2 separate regions of the Homo sapiens genome follow, and region 1 is linked to region 2. Evidence: fine-mapped expression QTL. Tissue or cell type: putamen. Region 2 holds a variant in brackets; the other region holds the start of a gene. All regions are shown on one strand. Distances are between the middles of the regions. Region 1 holds the start of TOM1L1 (target of myb1 like 1 membrane trafficking protein). Region 2 overlaps TOM1L1 (target of myb1 like 1 membrane trafficking protein).

What was found. PIP is the estimated chance that this variant, and not a neighbour inherited with it, causes the effect.
Region 1: it holds the start of TOM1L1, and the variant in region 2 is the best candidate, but not a certain one, in a credible set for the expression of TOM1L1 in putamen (GTEx, PIP 0.66).

The regions. Positions count from the first base shown.
Region 1 is chr17:54,897,814-54,903,188 of GRCh38, reverse strand. TOM1L1 (target of myb1 like 1 membrane trafficking protein) reads right to left here and starts at 2,337. Exons shown (of 16, transcript NM_005486.3): 1 at 2,266-2,337. The coding sequence starts at 2,323. It overlaps LOC124904033 (a long non-coding RNA gene), which reads left to right and starts at 2,452. Exons shown (of 2, transcript XR_007065854.1): 1 at 2,452-4,581. RefSeq lists enhancers at 2,023-2,112, 2,133-2,242 and a silencer at 2,323-2,662.
Region 2 is chr17:54,951,055-54,956,429 of GRCh38, reverse strand. All of the region lies in intron 14 of TOM1L1 (target of myb1 like 1 membrane trafficking protein), which reads right to left. It also overlaps a transcript of COX11 not described here. Among named protein-coding and RNA genes, the nearest start is that of COX11, 15 kb to the left of the region's middle. The variant G/TG (reference allele first, on the strand shown) is at 3,207.

The DNA.
Region 1 (5,375 bases), 53 kb after region 2:
GGACAGGAGGAAAGAACTTTTAAAGGAGAGAAGTAATCCGTTGTTCTTAGGAGCCAAAACATTGGCACAACTCCAAATAAAAGTAATACGTTTATTGTCCTATCATCTTAATCTCACGATTCCTTCTAATTTTACCAATTATTATAACTTCAACCAATACTTGCAAAGACACTGCTTACCTCAACTATGTAAAAACTTCCATTGCATACACTTTTACTTTCAGCCTTAATTATTTCAAACTGGCGCTGGATAACTATCCGAACTAATAATAATAAGCATCTAAACTAACCACAGCTGCACCAGGCTGACCAGAATGCTTCTGCACTTGGAACCCTATGATTAGATAATCAGGCATCTTTCCCTCTCCAGACAGCCGCTTTAAGAATACAAGATGTTATCTGGAAAGGGTAATGGAACACTCAGTATGAATGCGCTAACATCTTCCTAAGAGAAGGACAAGATCCCTAAGCATGAAAACACCGGGTTCTGGGGGAAATGGAGAAAAAAACAAAAAAGATAGAGAAGGGGAAGAATAAGGACTTGCTTGGGGGAACCCCAAAGTTTAGCTTGCTTTCAATCCAGGAAAAGAACCACTTGAGGCGGGGCCCGGTGGCTCCCGCCTGTAATCCCAATCACTTTGGGAGGCCGAGGTGGGTAGATCACCTGAGGTCAGGAGGTCGAGACCAGCCTGGCCAGCATGGTGAAACTCCATCTCTACTAAAAATACAAAAATTAGCCTGGCGTGGTGGCATGTGCCTGTAGTCCCAGCTACTCGGGAGGCTGAGGAAGGAGAAGTGCTTGAACCCGGTAGGCGGAGGTTGCAGTGTGCCGAGAGCTACTGCACTCCAGCCTGGGTGTCACTCCCCGTCTCAAAACAAAAACAAAAACAAAAACAAAACAACAACAACAAAAAACTTGAATCTGGCACCGAATGGACAAAGCTTACCTCCCTAGAAAAGAAAACTCCTATTCACCCTTCAAAAGCCACGCAGAATTCATTTCTCCCTTCTCCTAAGTTTTGTGTGTTTTGCATTTTCTTGCATTGCAAAGGTGCCACACAAAACTGTGCCCGTCTTCTCTACAAGAAAGTGAGTTCCCTCAGGTTTGAGACCACGTCTCACCTTGGCCTCACCAGTGCCTGATCCAGGTCCAGGCACATAGCTGACAGTTAGTCCATGTTTACAGAATTAAAAAATTAAGCAGAAGAACTGCTGAAGTTTCGTTTGCCTATGAAGACACAGTCTGAATCCATTTCTGCTTGGGGTTCATTCTAATATCCAAAAAAGCACAGCCATTAAGGGAAAGCATCTCCTCAATGGTAGCTACTCTGACCATCTTATAAGGATGTGTAAACTAAGGTTCTGTTTAAGTGGTGTGTTCGGTGTCACAGCAGTTAGTAGAGCTGTGATCTAAATTTTCCAAATCTGGGCCTCTTTACTACAACTACTAGGTTCTCACGATTTCATCACCCCACTAAGTTCCTGACATCATCACACTTTGCCTGGCATTAATATGCACTCGTGCCACACCCAATTCCCAAGGGAGGAATCAGGGAAAAGAAGGAGCAGTGAGCTGGTGCTGGTAGGAGTCCAATCACTGGCTTCTACATACATCATGCAAGGTACATCCGGAGGAGAGAGAAATCATTTAGGTGGATGCTGGTGTAGTCCCTAGTGGCCTGCGAGAGACCTCCGTGGCCCCAGATGGCTCCTATGTTCCCCTCCTCTTCACTCCAATGCCAAGCATTTTCATTCTCTTTGTTTACCCAGAAAAGTAATCCAGGTTGTATAAGCTTGGCACTAGAGAAAACTGGTTTGGGGAGACCTGCCCCTCACAGTAAGGCCACATCACTTAGTCTCCCAGAGCCTCCTCTTCTGATCTGTAAAACGGGCATAACAATACCGTGCCCTGGAGAATGTGCCTTTAGGAATAACTTCCCCTACCGAGAAGTTTCTGGTGTCTCCTCGTGGAGGCCCAAACACTCCATGCCTGACTCCCGCGGTTCACCTGTTTGGTTCCACTCCCCAGGCGGCATCGAAAGGAAGGTACATTTTTGAGGACTGAGGTTCTACAGTGAGTTGGCCAAGAAGGAAACGACGAAAGGGGGCCGGGTGGAATGCGGGTGCCTTGGGAAAGTTGCGGGGGGAGGGGAATAATTTTTTCAAGTTGGACTAACTCCGTCCTCTGCAGGCCGAGAATGGATCAAGCAGGAAAGGATCCCACGGTCCCCTGCCTGCCTGGGCGTCTCTCCCCGCGCCTCCTTACCTATGAGGTGGCCCACGGAGGTCGCGTAGGGATCCCGGTGACTCTTGCCAAACGCCATGGTAGCGCCAGAGGGCCGGGCCCAGGAAATCCGCCTCCACCGCTCTCCGGCTCCCGACTCCACCCGCTCGGTACCCTTGGCTCCTCCTCTTCGCCCGAGCGCTTCCCGGGCTCTGGCAGAGGCGGTGCGTTCTGCGCTGCCGCTGCGGGGCGCGGGCACCGAGCGTGAGGAGCTGGGCGCGGGGCAGGGACGCGAGGGCGGGGCTTCGGGACGCCCAGCGCACCTGCAGCGCGCCCTGCGGGACCCGCGAGGAGGCTGCGCTGCCGGCTGCAGGTGGTACAGGCGGGTAGTGGCGGGTGTATGGAGCCTGCGAGAGTGGCGCGGCCGCCCGCTCGGATCCCAGGTGGGCTTTTCGCCCCGTGCAGGAGGAGCAGGCAGCCCAGAATCTCCAGCCTGGGAATTAGAGACCCAGGCTTTGATCCTGCCGCTTGCTGGGCACCTTGTCATTCTTCTCTGCGCCTCTTTGGCTGCCCTGGGTAGACCAAAGATAATAGGGGGTTAATAACACAAACCTCAGAATTATGAGAATTAAGGGAAGGACGTAACCGATTATGTCGGTGTCTGGTACCCACAAAATAAATAGTTAGCCACTGAATATACTGAATAACTAGAAATATTTACCCTCGACCTGCCTTTGTCCTAGAGATCCGGGAGGGGAGGTGTGCGCCCTGCCCTTTAAAGTTGTGGTCATGTCTAGGAGGAAGGATTGGCTTCGAATTTAGGGCTTCCCAGGAGCAGGCCCTCTTTGTCTCTCTACTATTTCCTCGAGGGACCACAGGGCGCCGCCTCGCAAGCTCTTGTTTTCTAACCCCACCTTCTGGGAGCCGTGTTTTCCAGCCTGATTCTAAAAACGGGAGAGGGGCTTTCCGTTTCTTCTGGCAAGGAGTATGCTTGGCTTTAGGCCTGCTTTGTAATGTAGGTTGGAATCTGAGAAGCCCAACACCTTTCCAGCTGCCCCTTCAGAACCAGAATTTATTTCCTATTCCTTTGCATTCAATTAACATCTGATTGGCGATGTTAACAATCTCCAGCCAGCAGGAGCCTGCCAGAGAGTGAGGTGTCCCCAGGCGATGTCAGATAGCCATAGATGAGCTCCTGGTGCTTGTAGATCCTGTTTCCTGTAGTCTAACTGCCACCCATTTCAAGTCTGTTTTTTAGCCCTGGAGATGGTGACTAGGGAGACGAAGGGGACCTGTTTTGACTTATGTCCGTGGTCTTGTGAATTTTAATATAGAGGTCAAAACCAATTGCCATGCACTCCAGGAGGCTAACATTTAATTATCTGTAACTCAATTATTTATAATTTTTCTTGACCAAAGTGAGCCAAAACCTGGGATTCTAAAATCTAGAATGAAATATTCTTGTTGTGATGATATGTCTCATAATGGGATTTGTCCCACGTGTAACTAATATTCTCCACCTGCCTATTCAGGGCGAGTAGCTATTTCAGATGTTGCCGTTTATCAACTTCCTTACTCATCACTATAGCCTCTGCTGACACTGTTGAAAACCTCTTTTGTGACATCACCAACCTAATCTGTATTCCATGCCTCTAGCAAAATATTTTGCCTTTTCTGCAACCTAGAATCAACCTACAATCTCTGAAAAAGAAAACCAATTTTAGCTTAGGCCAATGTTGGTGTCAGTGGCCTTCTATCAGTTAATGAGAACGAGAAAGGAACCGAGCATCCAGAGAGATAGATTTTTAACATACTTCTATGTGGGAGGTTTTTCTTTTCGTCTTCTTCTTCTTCTTTTTTTTTTTTTGTTTTTTTCTCCTATGTCTGATTTCCTTACATGACAGGACTGAGGCACCGAGAAAGAGGAGAAACAGTAGCAAGGAGTGTCTTCTGGACTTGATGCTTGGGTGAACAGAACCAAGGTTGATGAGTGCTACCTGTGTTCTATCTCAGCAATGCCTGGCAGAAGTTTTTCTCTCTCCCTGTGCCCTCCAGGGTGTTGTGGTGGTTGTTGCAGCCTTCTCTTCCTGTACTCTGTTCCGTTCTGCATGATCCCTCTTCTCTCCAGGCATGAAAATCAACGTGGTTAATGTTAGTAAAGTCTAGCAGCGGGGACAATAGAATTCACAGCTAAGTTGAGGTCAGAGAAGGAGCAGAATCCCACAGGGGTAAAATGACACCAGGAGTAAAATCTTACCACAATTTCAATTCCAAGAACACTTAGTCAACATTTATTTATGTAAAATGTGCTAAGTGTCTGCAACTAGAAATCTATCTTAATCTTCACAATCCTGAGAGGTGGGTAGTATTAACCTCATTTTTACAAATATATAATCTGAGATTCAGAAAGATCAAGTTTATAAATGGCTTCACTAAAGTTTGACTCATGGCTGCCTGGTTCCAAAGCCTATATTATTGTCACTAGGTGAATCTGTTTATTGAGCCTGATGTCTTGCTTTTTTAAAGGATCTGCTTGATTCAGTGCAAGACCTCTTGAAGAATACAGGAATAGGGGAAGTCATATACTTTGCTGGCACAAGGTCCTGCTTTTTTTCTGTTCTTGTTCAATAGCGAATATTTTTTGTGCTAGAACTATATGCCAGATATGTTCTAAACATATTACATGCGTTATCTCATTTAATCACATAATAACGTTATGAGACCAGTACGGTTATTACTTTATTTTTCATGTTAGAAAAACCAAAGTAATGGCTGGGCGCGGTGGCTCACACCTGTAATCCTAGCACTTTGGGAGGCCGAGGCAGGCATATCACCTGACGTCAGGAGTTCAAGACCAGCCTGGCCAACATGGTGAAACCCTGTCTTTACTAAAAATACAAAAATTAGCTGGGCATGGTGGCAGGTGACTGTAATTCCAGCTACACGGGAGGCTGAGGCAGGAGAATCGCTTGAACCCGAGAGGCGGAGACTGCAGTGAGACGAGGTCACGCCACTGCTCTCCAGCCTGGGCAACAGAGTGACTCCATCTCAAGAAAAAAAGGGGGGGGAAATAAGTCAATAATTTTTCACATAGTCACATTGCTAGGGAAGGACTGTCTAATTCCAGAACCTGTGACTTGAATGGCTGTGCT
Region 2 (5,375 bases):
AGGAGGCTGAGGCATGAGAATTGCCTGAGCCTGGGAGGCAGAAGTTGCAGTGAGCCGAGATCACCCCCACTATACTCCAGCCTAATGACAGAGTGACACTCTGTCTCAAAAAATTAAATTAGCCAGGCATGGTAGCACACCCCAATAGTCTCAGCTACTCATGAGGCTGAGTAGGGAGGACTGCTTCAACCTGGGAAGTCAAGGTTGCAGTAAGCCGTGATCATGCCACTTTATTCTAGTTTGAGTGACACAGTGAGACCCTGTCAAGAAAAAATAATAATAACCTGTGTTCTCATGGAGAGTTGTCTATTACCAGATGAATGAATCTCAGGTTTTTTTAGGGGTAACAAGTCTGGTACCCCAGATGAGACCCAGGGTTGAGCCCTGACTTGACCTCCCTTATAGGCTCCTGGCAGGCAAAGCAGTGGGATGTGGAAGCATGCGTGGGCCAACTCACCTCAGTTGCCAAGAAGGAGACTAGAGAAGGGCCTTGGGACCCCTGACCTGGTGTCTAGTGTAGTCCACTGACCAGCACCACAAGACCTCTCTGGGAGAGTAGAAGCGGCTGCCTAGAGCCCAGACCTTTTGCTCGGTGCTGCTTTGAAGCAGCAGCTCCATGAACTACTAAAAGAGTGGTCTGGGTTTTGATCATTAGGATTCTGGGTTGTCAGGATTAGGACCTAGGTCAAGGGATCCAGGATTGTTGAGAAAAAGAAGTTCCTTCTTTCAGGTCTGGGAGACTGAGAGACATCGCCATCGTTTTAACAAGGGGAATCCCCAACAAAAAGACAAGGATGCTTGTCTTCAGGCTTTGTTCCCTACGTGGTATAACTGTAGGGCTCAATATTCTTACTTGTCTGTGGCCTGAATGAATATGAAGTCTGGATTCTTCTACCCTTAGTCTGTGGCAACCCCTAAAATATCAGGCTTTGTTTTGCAGCAGTCACAGAAGGACTGCTGTTAGTTTGATGAGGAGACCCAAGTTTCAAAGGGGGCAGTTTTGGTGGGATCATGATCCCTGGAACCAGAATGCAGTGATACAAAGGTTACATGAACAGTGTGTGTGCTTTCTCTGAGGAAACACCTCACTCACTTGATTGATTTACCTACCTCCCCACCACCTGAGCTGGATCCAGAACTACTTCATTGTCTCCATGAGATCTCCTGGGAGGCTGCCCGGACCGAACATGATCCAGGGAAAGGAAATCCCTGTTATCCTCTCAGCTTCCCAGGACCTCTGGATGGCTTTGCATGGTGGCCAGCAAAGAGGACCAGAAGTATTCAAGCTGAGTTGTGGGATTTGTGTCATCATTAATCTCCAGAGTTTGGAAGCCCCTCAGACTGTGTGCAGAGACCGTAGAATGTCGTGAACTAGGTCTTGGAAGGAGAGCTTGTTAGGGTGCCTCCTCTGGCAATGGAAACTGCATATCCACCCATGACCAAAAAGCAAATGATATATTACTGTAATACAGCCTGGCTCCAGTATTCCCTAGATCAGAAGAGATGGTCTGAATATGGGTCACTTACTGCAACTCTCCAATTGGACTTTTTTTGCAAGAAACATGGTAAATGGGAAGAAATGCCCTATATGCAATGTTTTATGGCCCTCTATCAAAACCCTGCCTTGCAGATGAAATGCAGAATATGTAAATTGGCCAAAGGGAACTATATTGCCAATTCTAGAAGCCTCTGGAGAGGAAGCATCAGTCATGTGGGGGCCTATAGGGAAGGGAACAAGTAAGAAGAGTCCCTTTACTACCCCCTCCAAGAGAAGTGAGGCCCTCTAACTCTACTCGGGGACTGGAACCTTGGCCAATACAGGGGCATAGTCCACCTTCTTGGAAATGGTACCCTCTGCACCTCCAGGGAAAAGCAAGGGCCCGTTCTGTATTTGCCAGGCCCTCCAAACTCTGCAGAGCCAGCTGTGGCTCCTGCTATGGCAATAGCAGGCCCCTGTTGCACTCTTCTTTGCCAGGGAGCACCACTCATAGTGGGAACGCATATAACCCTGGAGGGTGACTGTTGCCACTCAGAGCATGCCTGTTGGAGAAAGAGGTTTTGCTCGGGTCTATGTGTTTTTTAAAACTGTTGACTTGTATAACTGGAAATCCCATAGTAAGGGCTTATGGGTGAGCCCACGAGAGTTCGTAACTCTCATATGGAGAATATTCTCCACACATAACCCTACCTGGCCAGGTGTGCAGACCGTAACAGCAACCCTGCTCACAGCAGAAGATAAATCTGCCACCATGGCCAAAACTAAGGAGGAGGCAGACAATATGTGTGCTGATAACCTGGTGACCTGGCCCGTTGAGGTGTCAGTCCCAATAGCCAACCCAAACTGGGACCCCAGTGATAACAAGAATCAAGAGTGGCTTCATCATTATAGGAATATGCTTCTCAGAGGTATGAGGGAAGCAAGCCAGTCCCTGGTCAATTGGGGAAATCTCAGAGAAATAGAACAAGGCCCTAATGAAAATCCATCAGCATTCCTAAATTGATAATAAGAATGCCTCCAGAATTACACCCCTTGGGACCCAGATGACCCAAAAGCTGAGTAGTACTTTAATCTCACTTCATCTCTCAGCCCCAGATATTCAGAGAAAACTCTAAAAAGTGGCAATAAATCCACATACTCCCCCTTTCCAACTGGTAGACATCTCCTTTAAGGTCTATAGTAAAGAGATGTGGCATCTGATGAAAAGGAAGACAAGAAGATGCGGCAGCCCTACAGACTACTTCAGGAAGCCCAGGAAGAAGATGGCATGGGTGAGTGACCAGGGCCCCCACCATGGAACTCAGGGCCTGCCTACACTGGGGCCCAAACAATATGCTTACTGGAAGCAGAAAGGATGCTAGGAAAGGGAATGTCCAAATCATCCCCAGAGAGGGAAGGAGGAGGACAAGCCCAAGGTACCTGTTCCCTGTAACTGGACAAGAAACTGATGGATGGGGACATGGGGCTCCCTGCCTGGCTCCTCAAAACAAGATCCACATCTCCCCCAAGGAGCCCCAGGTTACACAGAAGAAGGGGGGCAACCAGTTGGATTTTTTTTCGTTTGTTTGAGACAGGGTCTGTGTTACCCAGGCTGGAGTGCAGCACCGTGATCATGGCGCACTGCCGCCTCCAACTCCCAGGCTCAAGCAGTCCTCCCACCTTAGCCTCTCAAGTAGCTGGGACTAAGGCACACCTGGCTGATTTTTTT[G/TG]TTTGTTTGTGGAGACAAGGTCTCGTTATGCTGTCAGGGCTGGTCTTGAACTCCTGGGCTCAAGTGATCCTCCAGCCTTGGCCTCCCAAAGTGTTGGCATTACAGGCATGAGCCACTGCTCCCGGCCACCAGCTGAGTTTTTGATCAACACTGTAGCCATGTTTTCTGTGTTGATCACTAAAAGTGGACCCTATCCAGGAAGAAATGTATATAAGGGGTGTGTCTCATAAAGGAAATAAAAGATTCTTGGAGCCTCTGGTCCATGAAATAGTATCTAAAACTTTCACTCATTCTTTCTTCTGTTCCCCAAACATCCCATTCTCCTTTTGGGAAGGGACCTTCTGACTAAGTTTGGAGCCACAATTTCTCTAAATCAGGACAGAATAGAGGTGTTCTGAGCCCATGGCACTGCCATGCTGGCCCTAGTTCCTGGGGAAGTTCCAGACTTGGGGCCTCATATGACTCCTTGGCTAATGCGGTACTAGATAATTGTATAGCATTAGACTGCCTCTTAGCAGAACAGGGAGGAGGAGAGTGTGCAGTTATTAATTCCTCTTGCTGTACCTGAATAAATACCTCAGGGGAAATAGGAAGTTAACATTAGGAAGGTCCATGCCCAAGCCTCTTGGTTCCACACTTTTAATCAGCAGCCATATTTTTTTTTTTTTTTTTTTTTTGAGACAGTCTCGCTCTGTTGCCCAGGTTGGAATGCAGTGGGGCACGATCTGGGCTCACTGCAACCTCTACCTCCTGGGTTCTAGCGATTTTTCTGCCTCACCTTCCTGAGTAGCTGGGACTACAGGTGCGCACCACCACACCTGCCTAATTTTTGTATTTTTAGTAGAGACGGGGTTTCACCATGTTGCCCAGGCTGATCTTGAATTCAGGGTGATCTGCGCGCCTTGGCCTCGCAAAGTGCTGGGATTACAGGGGTGAGCCACCACATCAGGCCTAATAGCCATACTTCTAATTCTGTTTGAGAAGTTCTCAAATTAGCAATACCAAGTGTTACTTGGTTTCTTCCCCTAATGAGGCCACTAATTTTATTGCTCTTACTACTGTTGTTTGGTCCCTGCATCTTTAACCTCTTCGTAAAATTTGTATCTTCCAGATTAGAAAAATTTCAACTGTAGGTGCCTTTGCAACCTATCCTGGGAGACCCTAAAACATATTTAGTTTTAGTGCCTAGAGATTTTCACTCCTCTAACATCTCTGGATACAGTGTCCCTGGTCAACATGAAGAAGTTACAGAAGAACGCTTTCTGATCCTGGCCCCTAAAGAATTTACTTGTGCTAAGTAATAAAATTCCTATTGATCAAAACCTGTGTCCTTGTGGAGAGTCAGATATCTGTTACTATCCAGGTGAATGAACCCTGGGTTTTTTGGGTGGTAACAGGACCTGAGGGGCTGCAGAGCCTACCTGTGTAAAGGAGATAGCTACTACTCAACCCCAGCCCATAGCTAGCACGTAAAAATTCAGGCTTCGTGTTGACAGAGTATCTAAATGATCTAGAAGTCCAGAATTTTTATTTTCAAATATCCGAGTTTTCAGCTGTTGGCAACTGTGGTCTTATGATACATACTGGTTTTTGTCTAAGGTTCCTGGCTCACAACTCCCATAGCCCTTGTTACAGTCTTTTGTTATAATGTTGGGTGTGTCAGGCCTTAGGAGCCAGCCTCTGGAAGCAGAATCTCTCGACCTTCTCTAGTCCTCCTTTCACCTGCCCCAAGGCACCACTCTAATCGCCCACCTTTGTCACTGTGGGTCATAAGAGCCTCCCTAGAGAGGGTCCTGCCCTATACCCTGGGGGAAGGAATGCTGACATCAAGAAGCTTCCATTAAAAACCCTAGAGGACTGGGTTGGGGTTGGGTCAGGTCAGTTTCTGGATAGCTGAACACGTGGAGGTACCTGGAGGGTGGGACTCCAGGGAGGGCACGGAAACTCCATGGCCTTTTCCGCATGCCTCGCCCTGTGCATCTCTTCATCTGCATCCTTTGCAATGTCCTTTATAATAAACCAGTAAATATAAGTATTTCCCTGAGTTCTGTGAGCTGCTCCAGCAAACTAATCAAACCCAAAGAAGCAGTCATGGGAACCCCAACTTGAAGCCAGTCAGTCCTAAGTTTAGAGGCCCAGGCTTGTGACTGGTGTCTGGGAAGGTAGGTG